Homo sapiens: one gene and its partners. The protein of the gene in region 2 purifies or fractionates together with the protein of the main gene of each other region. This does not show direct contact. Each region holds a gene or a part of one and is shown on either strand. Other genes may lie near its edges.

Region 1 (3,604 bases), on a different chromosome or scaffold from region 2:
TTGGGAATCCTCCAGCCTTGAATTGTCTTTCTGTCTTCCTTTACAGATTCAGAGACCAAGTGCTATGAAAACCTTTCTTTGCCCACACTAAGACTAAGGCTATTTAGACCTGATATATTACTTTTCTAGGGCTACTGTAAAAAATCACCGTAAACTTGGTAGTTTGAAACAACAGAAATTTATTCTCTCAAGTGCTGGAAGCTAGAAGTCTAAATTCATCGTACTGGCAGGACCATGTTTTCCTGAAGGTTTTATGGGAGAATCCTTACTTGCCTCTTTCTAGCTTTTGGTGGCTCCTGGAAATCCTTGGCATTCCTTGGTTTATAACTGCGTTACTCCACTCTCTGCCTGTCTTGTCACATGGCCTTCTTTAGATCTTACTTGTTTTTTCGAGACAATCTCACTTTCTCACTCAGGTTGATGTGCAGTGGCATGCTTTCAGCTCACTGCCACCTCTGTGTCCTGGGTTCAAGTGATTCTTGTGCCTTAGCCTCCTGAGCAGATGGGATTACAGGCATACACCACCACACCCAGCTAATTTTTTTTTTTTTGAGACACAGTCTCACTCTGTTGCCCAGGCTGGAGTGCAGTGGTGTGATCTCAGCTCACTGCAACCTCTGCCTCCTGGGTTCAAGCAATTCTCTTGCCTCAGCCTCCCAAGTAGCTGGGATTACAGGATACACACCACTACTCCTGGCTAATTTTTGTATTTTTAGTAGAGATGGGGTTTCACCATGTTGGCCAGGCTGGTCTTGAACTCCTGACCTCAGGTGATCTGCCCACCTTAGCCTCCCAAAGTGCTGGAATTACAGGCGTGAGCCCTCACTGTGTCAGGCCATAATTTTTTTATTTTTTATTTTATTTTTATTTTTTTTTTAAGACGGAGTCTCGCTCTGTTGCCCAGGCTGGAGTACAGTGGCACGATCTTGGCTCACTGCAAGCTCTGCCTCCTGGGTTCATGGGTTCTCCTGCCTCAGTCTCTCGAGTAGCTGGGACTACAGGCGCCTGCCACCATGCCCAGCTAATTTTTTGTATTTTTAGTAGAGATGGGGTTTCACCATATTAGCCAGGACGGTCTCGATCTCCTGACCTCGTGATCCACCTGCCTTGGCCTCCCAAAATGCTGGGTTTACAGGCATGAGCCACCGCACCCGGCCTATTTTTTATTTTTAATAGAGACAGGGTTTCACCATGTTGGCCAGGCTGGTCTCAAACTCCCAGCCCCAAGTGATCCACCTGCCTAGGCCTCCCAAAGTGTTGGGATTATAGGTGTGAGCCACCGTACCCAGCCACCTTCTTTAGGTCTTAAATGTCTCTCTGTGAATCCTCTTTTTTTTTTTTTTTTTTTTTTTTTTATTGGAGGGACTGGTTCTTTATTTCAAAAAGACACTTGTCAATATTCAGTATCAAAGCAGGTGGACTATTGATTTCTGTTTCTCCCAATCGGCCCCAAAGAGACTATATCAAAGGACAGTACGTTTTAAGCCAGTATGCTGCAGGATGTACACCTGACAGACTTTACAGAAACCTTATCGGAAAGTGGGGATTGGGTAGGGAAAGAAACTTTAAAAGATCAGCAAACTGCCAGCCCGGCCAGGCACGGTGGCTCACCCCTGTAATCCCAGCGCTTTGGGAGGCTGAAGCGGACATATCACGAGGTCAGGAGTTCGAGACCTGCCTGGCCAACATGGTGAAACCCTGTGTCTACTAAAAATACAAAAAATTAGCCAGGTGTGGTGGTAGGTGCCTGTAATCCCAGCTACTCTGGAGGGTGAGGCAGGAGAATCACTTGAACCTGGGAGGCAGAGGTTGCAGTGAGCTGAGACTGCACCACTGCACTCCATCCTGGGCAACAGAGCGAGAGTCCATCTCAAAAAAAAAAAAAAAATCTGCCAGCTCACAGACTGTAGAGGGCTGTCACAGTCAAACTGGGTGGCCAGGGTGCCACCCAAAGAAGCAAAGTTTCAAAATAATACAAAAATTTAAAAAAGTTTTGTACATAAGCTATTTAAGATTTCTCTAGCATTAACTGATATTAAGCACAATGAGATGGCACTTTTAGAGACAGCAGCTTCAAACCCAGAAAAGGGTAATGAGATGAGTTTCACATGGCTGAATCAGTGGCAAAAACATAATCTTCTTTCTATCCTCCTCTAAGAACACCAGTGCTCCCTAATGCAGTGTGACCTCATCTAAACTTGATTACATCTGCAGAGGCCTGATTCCCAAGTAAGGTCACATTCACTAGTGCTGGGGGTTAGATCTTCTTGGGGACACAGTTCAACCCACTACACCTGGTTTCCTCCAGATTACCTGGAGACCATTTTAAGATTCATGGCATGAAAGATTATGGATCTAAACTTCAAATGTAGAATTCTAGATATAATCTGTTCATCTTTTCTTTGACGTGAAAAGAGGTAGAAGTGGCATAATTTGGAGTCTGATTAAGATTTTACAGTCCGTGCTTTTTTTTGCCAGGAGAATCCCAGAGCACGCCTTTGATACCTGGAAGGTGACTACTCTTTTTTATTTTATTTTTTTTTGTGAGACAGAGTCTCGCTTTGTTGCCCAGGCTGGAGTGCAGTGGCACAATCTCGGTTCACTACAGCCTCCGCTTTAGCTTAGGTTCAAATGATTCTCCCACCTCAGCCTCCCAAGTAGCTGGGATTACAGGCTCACACCACTGTGCCCTGCTAATTTTTTTGTATTTTTAATAGAGATGGGGTTTCACCATGCAGGCCAGGCTGGTCTTGAATTCCTGACCTCAAGTGATCCTCTCGTCTCTGCCTCCCAAACTGTTGGGATTACAGGCGTGAGCAACCACGCCCAGCCAAGTTGACTACTCTTTTATTTTTTGAGACGGAGTCTCGCTCTGTCACCCAGGCTGGAGTGCAGTGGCACGATCTCGGCTCACTGCAACCTCTGCCTCCCAGGTTCAAGCGATTCTCCTGCCTCAGCCTCCTGAGTAGCTGGGATTATGGGCACACACCACCATGCCCGGCTGATTTTTGCATTTTTAGTAGAGACGAGGTTTCACCATGTTGGTCAGGCTGGTCTCGAACTCCTGACCTCGTGATTTGCCTGCCTCAGCCTCGCAAAGTGCTGGGATTACAGGTGTGAGCCACTGTGGCTGGCAAGGTGACTACTCTTATTGCCACCTGTTGCTGCAGATTTAGTATTTTCTGGAAGTTTAGAGCATTTTTAGGATTTTCACAGTACTTTTTAATTATGTCTAATTTGGTGTTTTTTTTTTTAAAGTTATAAAGATGCTTCAGACTGCAAAGAATTTGTTGAAAGAGGAGAAATTGGTGCATAGCTATCCGTATGACTGGAGGACCAAGAAACCTGTGGTTATTCGTGCCAGCAAGCAGTGGTTTATAAACATCACGGATATTAAGACTGCAGCCAAGGTATAAAAAGCATCCTGTTTTAACAGGTCGGGCATATCATTCCCTCAGTATAAAGGGGCTGCATGTGAGGTTGAGGTGGGGTTTCAGGAGTAATAGGGATTGCTGCTATTATGATTTAGTTTCATAACATTGTAGAATTTTAGATCTGGAAGGACCTTGGACTTCCATTTTTTCATTATACATGTGTGAGAAAT
Region 2 (5,642 bases):
GTGAGGATTTTGTCTCCTTCCAAACCAATTACTCTTTTACAAATATTTGATTTTGGATCACTTGGGCTTTTTGCAATCACAATGTCACCTCTGAGGGGGAAAAGTCAAAGAAATGTCTGTATTATTTATTAAGCAAAAACACATGCATGGCACTGCTTTAATACTTTTATAAGACAACTTAAACAAAGCCATAACCTTTATCCTCTCATATACTTACTCTTCCACACATTTACTGGCTTTGAGAACCTTTGTGACTGAATACTTTAGGTGAGAATCCAACAATAAGAGTGATAAAAAGGCTATCTAAAATTTCTGATAATTTCAGAAGATTCTAAACTTTCAGATAATTCTACAAGAATTATCTTTTGCATTGTATCCAGTATGCTTTACTCCTGTGTCCAAATTCTTAGAACCAAAATTGTGGAAAAACAATTCTACATAGGCCGGGTACAGTGGCTCACAACTATAATCTCAGCACTTTGGGAGGCTACGGCAAGAGGATTGCTTGAAGCCAGGAGTTCACGGTTGCAGTGAGGCTAAGATCGTGCCACCATGGGCAACAGACTGAGACCATGTCTCCAAAAAAAAAAAAAAAAAAAAAAAAAAACCACACACACAAAACAAACAAACCAAGAAAAACCCCAAGTGAACCAAAAAAAGAAAAAAAAACCCTCCACACAATTCTATATAAATACTAACAAATTAAGTAAATAAATATTGCGGTCCAGCCAGTAGCACTGATTGACTCTAGAGCACACTAAAAAGGTAAAAGCATCATCCATGTTTCCCTAGAACTCAAATAATTGAGGAATGATAGCATGTAAGTCCTATAACCCATATCAAAAGAACTTATATTTGAGAAAAAAAATCAAAAGATACAACAAAATAAAATGCTAAAAGCTGCCTAAATATACACTCTGAAAAATAAAATGAGATATCAAACATATAAAACCAATAAGGGTCTGATTACATACAGAAGTCATGATTTATGGAAGAACTGACAATCTATCTGGTAATAAAAAATAAGAAAGATCCTAAAAAGTGAAAAGGAAGAAAGATAGAACGTAGGACTAATGACCACAGTCAAACAGAACACAATACTCTTTCTGCATAAAACGAGCAATATGTGAATTCTGTTGACTAACACACGTTTAAAAGGATTTAACATATTTGCTTATTAATTGTACCTAGTTCCAGAAATAGTTTAATGAAGCATATGTCAAAATAATATTAAAAGTCATAAGAATAAAAGGAAAATTATGAAGAAATCAGAAACCTAATAACTGCTCTATAGAAGCATTAAAATGGGTTCTAAACTCTTTGGGAGCCAAGTCAGAAGAAATTAAGACCAGTTACATGGAAATCATTAATTAATAAAATAACATTTAGCTTGGGAGGTAAGACAAAATTTTCCCTAACAACTAAATCAAAGAGAAATTCACAAGAAACTTTCTTATATAAGAGAATAAAAGATACCATCTTTATCAGAAATTTTACACAGAGTGCAGAAATAGTATTTACAATGATGATCTCTTGAGGCTATTCTTGGTAAGAGTTGAAAGGTAGCAAATCGTTACATTCTATAATTTGGAGGCAACACAGTGTTGCCTTCTTTTGAAAACAGAATAAAGGTATTTTCTTTCTAACCAACTAGAACCATGTCAGTGGATCTGTTCAGATGAACAAATTTGCAAAGATTGTAACACGCCATCAAAGTTGATTTTGGGTAGCTTTGGAGGAAGAGACGTTTTTCCATGGGTGTCTAATGAAGCTTAAGTTCTTTGATCAAATAATCAATATGACCCTTAAAACAAACTTTGCACTCGAATGGCAACATAGAAATCATAATTCAGTCGTGCTGTTTTGTAGAAAGTAGTATAAATAAACTTTATTTCTGGTAGTCTAACTAGATATATGCATAGCGTTTAGATCAAAATACATATCGGCTGGATTCTTAACTCCTTCAAATAGTTTTAAAAGGAAGCTTATTAAAAATTTTCTCATTTATATTTATAAACATCCTTATTATTCTACTACACAGTAAGCTTTTGAAAACTAGTGTCAATTATCTCATTAATCTTAACATTCTCTATAATGTATGGTACATCTTATAAATTAGGTGCTCACTACTATTTGTTGAAAGAATAAGCAATAGTAAAAATCTGACTGTCTCAAGGTTGAGTGTTCTGTGCAGTTGACTGAAGAGACATCCATGTGCTTTAGATACTAGATATGCAAACTTTTATTCTTGCCTAAATGGAAGGTTATTTTACATTTAGAAACAGGCAGCTAACAACAGGACACCTTGCCAGGGGTCAAAGATTCCCCTGAAATCTTGAGTTCTGTGCTGTGGGTAAAAGAAAGAGAATACTCAGGACAGTAATATTTCTTAAGTAAAAGTTACCAGCTGGCTATCTTGGCTCTAAAAGTTACTTTGGTATATCTCATAAATGCCAGATTTTGAGCTGTCCTGTAACCTGGATGAATAGGGTACAAAATAAGATCTTCAAAGAATCTGAATTCATTTACTGAATGTAGTTATTTGTTTCACTTATCTGAATGCAACGAGTAATTTTTTTAAAAATATCAAGCTGTGTATTCAAAAACTATTCAGCCAACAAGTTCATCTCCTCATTCAGGATGCCCAAGGATTATTGTGAATAAAATTATGTCACTGGCATGGAACACAGATGCTTGGTTTCATGCTACAGTGGGGCTAGGTCTCCAGTTAATTCAAAGGCTATATAAGGATAATTTGATATAAGTTAAAAAGAAAAGGGAGCAACAACACAATCTATTATATAAGTTTTATTTTATAATTCCTGTATCTACAATTAAGTATATAGAAGTTGTTATGGGTAAAAGATTTGAAGAAGAATTACCTAGGGAGCATGCCAAACCATACAGGTTGACCAAGAGAGTTTCTATCTGCAGAATCTAAGGCTGGTGAAAGATCAGTAAATGTGAAGAAATGTATTCTTAACAATTTTCAGTAATGTGAAATAGGTTATAGCAAAGGTGAATAGTGAAAGAGAAGTGCCTAAACCTACTTAATATGCCATAAACTAAACACTAGCTCAAGGGAATCAAATCTGTAGTTTACTGAAATGAAAGCAGGCATAGATTTTTTTCAGAATTATAAAAAACAAATGGACTCAAAATTTTAGGGTATCAGAGAGGTGCTCTTTAGAAAATATATTAAATTATTAATACTTGACATTCATTTGGAATAAATCATTCTCATAGAGTTAATTGGAATAAAGGGTATCACAAGGATTGGAACCACCACTTGAAATAGGATTTTTTATCATTATTATTTTTTTGTGAGATGGAGTCTTGCTCTGTCACCCAGGCTGGAGTGCAGTGGCATGATCTCAGCTCACTGCAACCTCCATCTCCCAGGTTCAAGCAATTCTCCTGCCTCAGCCTGCTGTGAAATAGGACTTTAAAAGGTTTAGTGACACACAATATTTGCCCAGGAGTTATTCAACTTAATATAATTAATCAGGAGACTCATAATATATACAATTCCTGGTTCTCAGCCATATACAATGATGTAATCTAAAAATCATCAAATGGGCTGGGCACGGTGGCTCACACCTGTAATCCCAACACTTTGGGAGGCTGAGGTGAGCGGATTGCTTGAGCTCAGGAGTTTGAGACCAGCCTGGGCAACATGGCGAAACCCAGTCTCTACAAAAACTACAAAAATTATCTGGGCGCGGCGAGTATACACCTGTAGTCACAGCTACTTGGGAGACTAAGGGGAAGGATCACTGGAGCCCAGGAGGTTGAGGCTGCAGGGAGCTGAGATCGTGTCACTGCACTCCAGCCTGGGAGCCAGAGCAAGACCTCATCCAAAAAATGTATATCAGAAAATTTAAAAAAATAAAAACCATCAAACGGTCATCATAGACTACATATAAAGTAAGATAGCAATCAATAGAACTACAGGATTATTTTTAAAATTAAAGAACAAAAACATTGATTTGGATCTGTAATGTAATCCCTAAGTTCCTAGTTCTTAACTCAAAATATTCTAAAGCCCAATTAAAAAAGTTAAGCTTACATGTATATTGTAAGGGACTGCTAATTATTTTTCAAAATGATGCAAGAGATACAATGACCCAAGACACTGCATATGTTTGAGAAACTATTAAAATTTCTCAAACTGAAAGAGAATATTTGACTCAAAATTTTATCTAGCTGGTTATTAATATGTTTATTTATGAAAGAGGTTTTAAAGATAAAGTTAAGGAACTGCAGAAAAGCCACAATGTGTGTGTGTATTTTCACTGTAAATTTAATATATCCATGACAGAAATTTACCTTTGGATACCATAAAAATGTCGACTAAGATTTTCTGCAAAGACAATATCTGAATTTTGAATTGTAGGCTCCATTGATGGTCCAGAACACTGAAAAGAGAGGTAATTTGTAATCTAAATTCAAAATCTCTTTTAAATTTAACATAAATCTTTTAAGCAAGCTTAAAAGAAAGAAAATCAAGCAAATGTTCCTAAAGCTTGGGGGATGATTCATGAAAATTTGGCAGTTCTCAAGTAAGTTCAACTCTAGAGTAGCCACTAAGTCTGGAAATATAGACAAATACATTATAAATGGATTATTGCTTTCACATTATAATGCCTGAATAAAACAACATTACCTATGTTTCCAAATTTAGGCCACCCTATAGAATCTCAGTTCTATGAAGGCAGAGATCTCTCTCATGTTCCTAGCTATATAACCAAAGCCAAGAACAATGTTTGGTACAAAATTGATAAACCATACATATTGGTTGAATGAATGGGAGAATAATACATTTTCTTATTACTATCAGATATAATCCAGTGAACATGATGATGATTTACTAAATGGTATTATACTATTCTCAGTGAGCTTATGCCCATCTTCCTCTTCCAAGAGAATAGCTTACTCATTTCATGGGGCTGCAACTTAAATGTTCTACTGAAAAATACTAGCATGATGAGATGGACTTTAAAGATTTTCATGGCCAGGCATGGTGGCTCACACCTGTAATCCCAAAACTTTGGAAGAATGACTTGAGGCCAGGAGTTCAAGACCAAACCTGGCAACCTAAATAGAACCCATCTTTACAATGAAGCAATTAAAGATTTTCCTATTTGTATGTCTCAAAACAATAATCTTGATATATACAGGTTGAGTGTCCCTAATAAAAAATCTGAAGTCTTAAATGCTCTAAAATCTGAAATGTTCTGAGTGTCTACATGACACCACAAATGGTAAATTCCATACCTGACCCCATGTGATGCATCACAGCCAACATGCAGTCAAAATTTTTGTTTCATGCACAAAATTCTTTAAAATAGTGTATAACATTACCTTCAGGCTATGCATATAAGGTACATATGAAATATAAATGAATTTTGCGTTCAGACTTGGGTCCCATCCCCAAAATATCTCATTATGTATATGCAAATATTCCAAAATCCAAAAAAATCTAAAATCCATAACACTTCTGGTCCCAAGCATTTCAGATAAGGGATACTCAAACTCTACCTCAGAATCAGAAAAAACTATCATCGCCACTTTAAAAATCTAAATCCGACAGTCTCCATTTACTCTATTTGTAAATAAAACTTTTTACTCAAAAGTTCCTA
Region 3 (3,604 bases), on a different chromosome or scaffold from region 2:
CTCAGCTCATTAATTTATTCTCCATTGCATCAGCCAACAACGTGGAGTCCTAACTTGGGGAAATTTGCCCCCTCTTGGAGCTCCCTGAGTCAGTTGATACAGAATACAGCCATGGGAAGGTCTTCAGTCCCCCTGGAACCCTGATGGCAAACCACAGAGGGAAGGCACACAGTGAAGTCACTGTGCTATCTGATACCATTGGGACATGCAGCCCCATGTTTCCCCTGGTGTTGTGAAATGTGCCCATTAAAGCTTTTGCAAAGCATATTACCCTCGTGGTCACATGCAGACCAAATAACAAAGCGGAAGAAAAGTGAAGCTGTTGCGGCAGTTCTGCATCCATGTGTGCTTCTGAACAGAGGAATCGTCTGCACCTTTGGCCTTGGGCTCACAGTGCGTTCTTTAGGCTGCTGCCATTGGCACTTCCTGTTGTTTTGATTCATTCATTACCAGCAAATACCATTTTTAGGCACCCTTGACAGCGACAGACACAGCCATCCTCTCTGGAAGCCTCTCAACCCAGAATGGAAATGGAGGAGGTTCCATTAACTTTGCGCTCAGACGAGTAACTTCGGCAAAGGGATGGGGAGAGGTAAGAATGTCTATTGGCTGAGTTGTGTTGTCTGTGCAAAGCCTTATTTCTGAACATTTACACTCTCAAAGCTCACCCTCAAACTCACCCTGGGGGCCCCGTTGTTGTGTAAGAACGGTACCAAGTGTCAAGCTTCCATAAGTTGACTGGTCCTAAAAGAAAAATAGGTCTCATGAGCCTGGCCAACATGGTGAAACCCCGTCTCTACTAAAAATACAAAACTTAGCTGGGCATGGTGGCACCTGCCTGTAATCCCAGCTACTTGGGAGGCTGAGGCAGGAGAATCACGAGAATCACATGAACCCAGGAGGCAGAGGTTGCAGCGAGTCAAGATCGCGCCGTTGCACTCCAGTCTGGGGGACAAGAGCAAAATTCCGTCTCAAAAATAAATAAATAAATAGGTCTCATATCTGAGAAGTCCTGTCAGTCTTCCTCACAGTTTAAAATTGGCATAGAAAAACAAGGTTTCCTATGAGATGCCAACTTCTAGAAATCCAGCCTCTGAAACTCCGTGTGTTTGTTCCCTTTGAGCAAAAAGCCTGTGGGCTCTTTTTCCTGCACAATTCAGAAGGCAGGTGCTCTCTTCCGCGTGATGGTTCACTGATTGGTGGCCATTTAACAGCCAGTTCTGCCGAGCAAATTGAGCTGCATCAAATTAACATTGAAGAGTTGCTTGAAAGTCACCCAGACTAGTAAACACGGCAGCCAGGCTCAGCTGTGACTTCCAAGGCTGTGCGGGTGTGGAACCGCGGCTGGGCTTTAACATCAGGCTCCTGAGGACCGCCCCAGTGACCTGGGAGACATTTGGCGCAGGATGAAAATGAAAAGGAGTCGGCAGTGCATGCGGGGGTGGGGGGCACACCGGACCGCAGTCGGTGCTCTGCAGGTGGCGGGGGGCTGCGCCGGGAGGGGTAGGGGGAGCCAGCTGGTCTCCTGACCTCAGCCTGGGAGGCAAGGAACAGAGGGGAGCAGTTTTTTCTTTGGAGGGACACCAATGAAACATGTGCCTTTGAAGCCTGGGTCTCCTTTGGATCTGTGGCAGCAGACAGCTCCATTTGGCAAAGGTTAAGATGAGACATTAACAATCTTCCACCCCCTTCTTTTAGAGCCCTGGCAAGACCAGTGAATTGAATGAAGGAATTATACCTAGAGGTACATACCTGAGCCTGGGTTGCTGCTATGAGATAAAACACCATTAATGCCTTCTCTTTTTCCTTTTCAAACAGTTGGAATTTGGAGCTGGAGACCTACAGGGGCCTTTGTTCGGTCTCAAGCTGTTCCGTAATCTCACACCAAGATGGTAAATATGAGAGACAGCAGCTCCTCTTTGGTGGTCTTTGTTGGCTTAGGAGACTAGAACTGTGTGTTCTTTTTATCACAGTGGTTGGCACTATCTTGTCTGTCCTACAAGGTCACTGCGTACATCAAGGGCAGGTATAGCACTGGCGTGAAGCCCAGGCAGTGTGCAGGTGGGAAGAGGCAGGATTGAGGGGGCCGGACCCTTGTCCCAGCCCTGGCCAGGCTGCACCATCCAGGTCTCGCACCTCCCTTACCTATGCCACAAGGCCACGGAGAAAGAGTGCCTTCAGGGAGAGTTGGTCAGTGGACCGAAACACTTACAGACTTATGGATCGTTCCATTGTCCCAGAGAATGACAGACTGCCTCATCATCGGGTTGATTGACATATGCCAGAGATGTAGTCCCCAGCCAGCCTCTGCTTCCTGTCGTCTCTGCTGCTGCCATGTCACACTCCTAGAACTGTATATCCCTGTCCCTTCTAGAACGACAGCAGTGTCTTCATTTCCTATATGGTGGGTGCAGTGATGTCTGTGTGAGCTCAGATAAAAGAATTGGTGGAGGGTAAATAATACCTCTTTCTTCCAGAGGAAGATATAGCTGAAGGAGTCCTAGAATGGAGCACATGGAGTTTATTTTATTTATTTATTTATTTTGGAGACAGGGTCTTGCTCTGTCTTGCCCAGCCTGGAGTGCGGTGGTGTGATCTCGGCTCACTGCAGCCTCTGCCTCCTGGGTTCAAGCTATTCTCCTGTCTCAACCTTCCGAGTAGCTGGGACTACAGGCGTGTGCCACCACACCCAGCTATTTTTGTATTTTTAATAGAGATGGGGTTTCACCATGTTGGTCAGGCTGGTCTCGAACTCCTGACCTCAGGTGATCCACCTGCCTCGGCCTCCCAAAGTGGTGAGATTACAGGCGTGAGCCACCACGCCTGGCCTATTTTATTTTACTTTATTTTTGTTAGAGACGAGGTTTTGTTCTGTTGCCTAGGCTAGAGTGCAATAGTCCGATCATAGTCCACTGCAGCCTTGAACTCCTGGGGTCAAGCAGTCCTCCTCCCTCAGCCTCCCGAAAAACTAGGACTACAGGCGTGTGCCAACATGCCTGGCTCATTGTTTAGTTTTTTTTAGGGATAAGTTATCTCTATGTTGCCTAGGCTGGTCTCAAGCTCCTGGATTCAAGCAGTCCTCCCACCTTGGCCTCCCAAAGCACTGAGATTAGAAGCATGAGCCACTTCAGCAAGCCTGGAGTATATGTTTTTTGTTTTGAGACAGGTCTCACTTTGTCACCCCGGCTGGAGAATAGTGATGCAATCTTGGCTCACTGCACCCTCAACCTCCCAGGCTCAGGTGACCCTCCTGAGTAGCTGGGACTACAGGTGTGCACCACCATGCCTGACTAATTTTTGTAGAGTTGGGGTTTCTCCTTGTTGGCCAGGCTGGTCTCTTAACTCCTGACCTCAGGTGATCCTCCCACCTTGGCCTCCCAAAGTGCTGGCATTACAGGTGTGAGCCACTGTGCCCAGGCACAGTGGCATGAATAACTTTCTTATCAAACATGTATTGTAGGCTGTACAAACATGTACAAACATGTACAGGAGTTCGAGACCAGCCTGGCCAACATGGCGAAACCCCCTCTACTAAAAATATAAAAATTAACCAGGCATGGTGGCGCTTGCCTGTAGTCCCAGCTACTTGGGAGGCTGAGGTGGG
Region 4 (3,604 bases), on a different chromosome or scaffold from region 2:
TGACATCCATGAACAATGTTACATTATTTATTCAGATCTTCCTTTAAGTCCCTTAGTGGAACTTTAAGATGGTGTATATGCTAGGTGCTGTACTAGGAGCTGAGGATATAGAAATTAATCAAACATGCCTTCTACCTGAAAAAACTAAGACCATTATAAGAAATAAACATATAAACTAGAAAGTTTAATAAAGTATTTTAAATGCTGTGATAGGGATGTATACAGGGCATGGATGGGACAATAAGGACAAAATGATAAAATAGAACTGAATCTGACAATTGATGTGAATCATAGGAGTTTTGTGGAGCTCTTATGTTTTTAAAACATATTTTTCTTGGCCCACTGTTCTATAAGTAACTGACTAGAAACATTGAATAAATGAATGGAGAATACCTTAATAGTTTATAGCATATTTATTCTGACATAAAGTAACAATTATTTTTAACTCCTCTAGTCATTCATTATACTTTATAGCAACTACATAAAACCTGCCAGACTAACAAAACAAAATTCACCTTACAAAATGAGTTAGTATGACAAGCATAGATGATATGGAAATTTACAAGAGAATAACCGTATGTCTTGTACATTTTTTTTGTTTTTTTACTGACAGTTTGGTTGCTGTGTGTCTTTCACTTCCAGCTGAAGCAGAATGACAGTGATTTTTAAAACAGTTTTATTGAGGTACAGTCGACGTATTACACACTATATATATTTGAAGTGTAAACTTTGATGTGTGTTGATATATGTACACACCCTGAAACTGTCACCATAAGTTCAAGATAATGAATTTATCACCCCCATAAGTTTTGTGGTGCCCTTTCGTAATCCCTTCCTTCTTTTCTTTTCCAAGTAGTCACAGATGAGTTTGCATTATCTAGAAATTTATGTCAGTATATCATAAATCATGCAGTACTCTCTTTTGAGATTTGTCCATGTTGTATATATCAATAGTTCATTCTTTTTATTGCTGAGTACTAAGTGTCCATTTTGCAGTATTCCATAGTTCATTTATTCACCTGGTGATGGAAATGTGGGTTTCCAATTTGAGGCTATTAAATAAAGTTGTTTTTAATATTCTTATGCAAGTCTTTGAATGAACATGTGGTTTCTTTTCTCTTGGGTGGCAAGCCATTTACTTGCCAGTGGAATGGCTGGATCAGATGTAGGTATGTGTTTTACTTTTTAAGAAGCTGCCCCAACTGTTTTCCAAAGTGCTTGTACCTACAGTTCTACATACCTATGAGCAGTGTGTGAGAGTTCTATTTCCTCCACATTCTTGTCAGCATTTGCTATGGTCTGTCTTTTAAATTTTGGCAATTCCAATAGATGTTAAGTGGTATCTTACTGTGGCTTAAATTTGCATTTCCCTTATGACTAGTGGTGTAGGGCATCTTTTCATATGCTTATTTGCCATCCATATGTCTTTTTTTTGCTAAGTGACCATCCATATAGTTTTCCCATTTGTAATGGATTATTTGCTTTCTTACTGCGTTTTGAGAGTGTATGTTTGTATATTCATACACAGTCATGTGATTTATTATATATATGATGGTAGTCCCATAAGATTATAATGGACCTGAAAAGTTTCTCTTGCCCAGTGACGTTGTGTTTGTGGTGATGCCAGTATAAACAACAAACCTGGGCTGCCAGTTACACAACAATGTAGCACATACCATTGCATACATCACATAATATTTATAAACGATCATAAAACGACTTTGTTACTGGTTTATGTATTTACTATAGTATACTTGTTATTGTTATTTTAGAGTATACTGCTTATACTTCTAAAAAGAATGTTAACTGTAAAACAGCCTCAGGCAAGTCCTTCAAGAATTATCCAGAAGAAGGCATTATCATCACAGGAAATGACAGGTTCATGTATGTTATTAATATTTCCCCTGAAGACCTTCCAGTGGGGCAAGATGTGGAGATGGAAGACAGTGACATTGATGATCCCAACCCTGTGTAGGCCTAGGCTAATGTGTGTGTTTGTGTCTTAGGTTTTAACAAGAAAGTTTACCAACAAAAATTTTTTAATTGGAAAAAGCTTATAGAATGAGGATATAAAGAAGGAAAATATTTTTGTACAGCTGTATGGTGTGTTGTATTTTCAGCTTAGTGTTATTACAAAAGAGGTAAAACGTTAGAGATTAAAAAGTTTATAAAGTAAAAAAGTTACAGTAAGGTAAGGTTAATTTATTGTTGAAGAAAGAAACATTTTAACAGTAAATTTAGTGTAGCCTGTTGATGAAGTCCTCAATAGCCTACAGGAATGCCCCGTGGCTTACCTTTTCATGCTCTTTAACCCTGTGTTTCAAAGAGCAGACGTTTTACATTTTGAACATGTCCAATTTGTCAGTTTGTTCTTTTATAGATTGGGATTTTAGTGTCTTATCTAAGAAACCATTGCCTCACCTAAGGTCACAAATATTTTCTCTCATGTTTTCTTCTAGCAGTTTTATAGCTTTGGGTTTTACATTTAGGTAAAAGGTCCCATTTTGAGTTAGTTTTTGTATATGGTTCATGATTATAGATTCAAATTCTTTAAAAAAAAAAAAAGCTATCCAGTTGTGCCAGCACCATTTGTTGAAAAGACTGACCTGTCTTCAATTGAATTGTCTTCGTATCTCTGTTCACGTGTAAGTGGATCTATTTCTGGACTCTTTTTTTCTGTTCAGTTGATCTGTTATCATCATGTCATTTTCACACTGTCTTAATTACTGTAGCTTTATAGTAAGCCTTGAAATTGTGTAGTGTTAGCCATACCACTTTGTTCTTATTCAAAGTTGTTTTGGCTATTTGAAGACATTTGCATTTCCATATGAATTTTAGAATCACCTTTTCAGTTTCTACATTAAAGTCTGCTGTGATTTTGTTTGGAATTATGTTGTATCACTGGATGAATTTGGGGAATAATTGACAATAAAAAGAAAATTCTGGGTACATTTACACAATCGTCATCTGCAAATAAAGGTAGTTTTACTTCTTTTTTAATCCTTTTTTATTCTTTTTACCTTACTGCACTAGTTATAACCTTGAGTGCAATGTTGACTAGAAGTGGTGACAGTGAACATCTTTGTGTTATTCATGATTTTAGAGAGAAATAATTCAATCCTTCACCGTTAAGTGTGCTATTAGATTTAGGGGTTTTTTTGTGGGGTTTTTTGTAAATGCCCTTATCAGGTTGAGGAAGTTCCCTTCTGTTTCAAATTTGCTGAGAAATTTTTGGTTTTTCATGTTTTTAAATCAGAAATGGATGTTAGATTTTGTCAAATACTTTCACTTTTTTTTTTTTTTTTTTGAGACAGAGTCTCAACTCTGTCACCTAGGCTGGAGTGCAGTGGCTCAGACTCGGCTCACTGCAACCTCTGCCTCCCGGGTTCAAGCGATTCTCTTGCCTGAGCCTCCTGAGTAGCTGCATGCCACCACGCCCAGCTAATTTTTTGTATTTTTAGCAGAGACAGAATTTCACTGTGTTAGCCAGGATGGTCTTGATCTCCTGACCTCGTGATCCACCCGCCTTGGCTTCCTGAAGTGCTGGGATTACAGACGTGAGCCACGGCACCCGGCCCTTTTGCTTTTTATAAATTGATACATA

Evidence for each region. The genes of interacting proteins can lie anywhere in the genome.
Region 1: the proteins of IMMP1L (region 2) and IARS2 purify together in Homo sapiens (affinity purification with mass spectrometry; one large-scale study listed by BioGRID and IntAct). This does not show direct contact.
Region 3: the proteins of IMMP1L (region 2) and DNAJC11 purify together in Homo sapiens (affinity purification with mass spectrometry; one large-scale study listed by BioGRID and IntAct). This does not show direct contact.
Region 4: the proteins of IMMP1L (region 2) and MTMR9 purify together in Homo sapiens (affinity purification with mass spectrometry; one large-scale study listed by BioGRID and IntAct). This does not show direct contact.

What each region holds. Positions count from the first base shown.
Region 1 is NC_000001.11:220,107,528-220,111,131, forward strand, and holds part of IARS2 (isoleucine--tRNA ligase, mitochondrial precursor), read left to right. Parts: intron 1-3,258; coding exon 3,259-3,410; intron 3,411-3,604.
Region 2 is NC_000011.10:31,456,297-31,461,938, forward strand, and holds part of IMMP1L (mitochondrial inner membrane protease subunit 1), read right to left. Parts: intron 4,419-5,642; coding exon 4,330-4,418; intron 91-4,329; coding exon 1-90. UniProt on the Homo sapiens protein: Catalyzes the removal of transit peptides required for the targeting of proteins from the mitochondrial matrix, across the inner membrane, into the inter-membrane space. Known to process the nuclear encoded protein DIABLO.
Region 3 is NC_000001.11:6,649,817-6,653,420, reverse strand, and holds part of DNAJC11 (dnaJ homolog subfamily C member 11), read left to right. Parts: intron 1-469; coding exon 470-592; intron 593-1,818; coding exon 1,819-1,892; intron 1,893-3,604.
Region 4 is NC_000008.11:11,291,212-11,294,815, forward strand, and holds part of MTMR9 (myotubularin-related protein 9), read left to right. Parts: intron 1-3,604. UniProt on the Homo sapiens protein: Acts as an adapter for myotubularin-related phosphatases. Increases lipid phosphatase MTMR6 catalytic activity, specifically towards phosphatidylinositol 3,5-bisphosphate and MTMR6 binding affinity for phosphorylated phosphatidylinositols.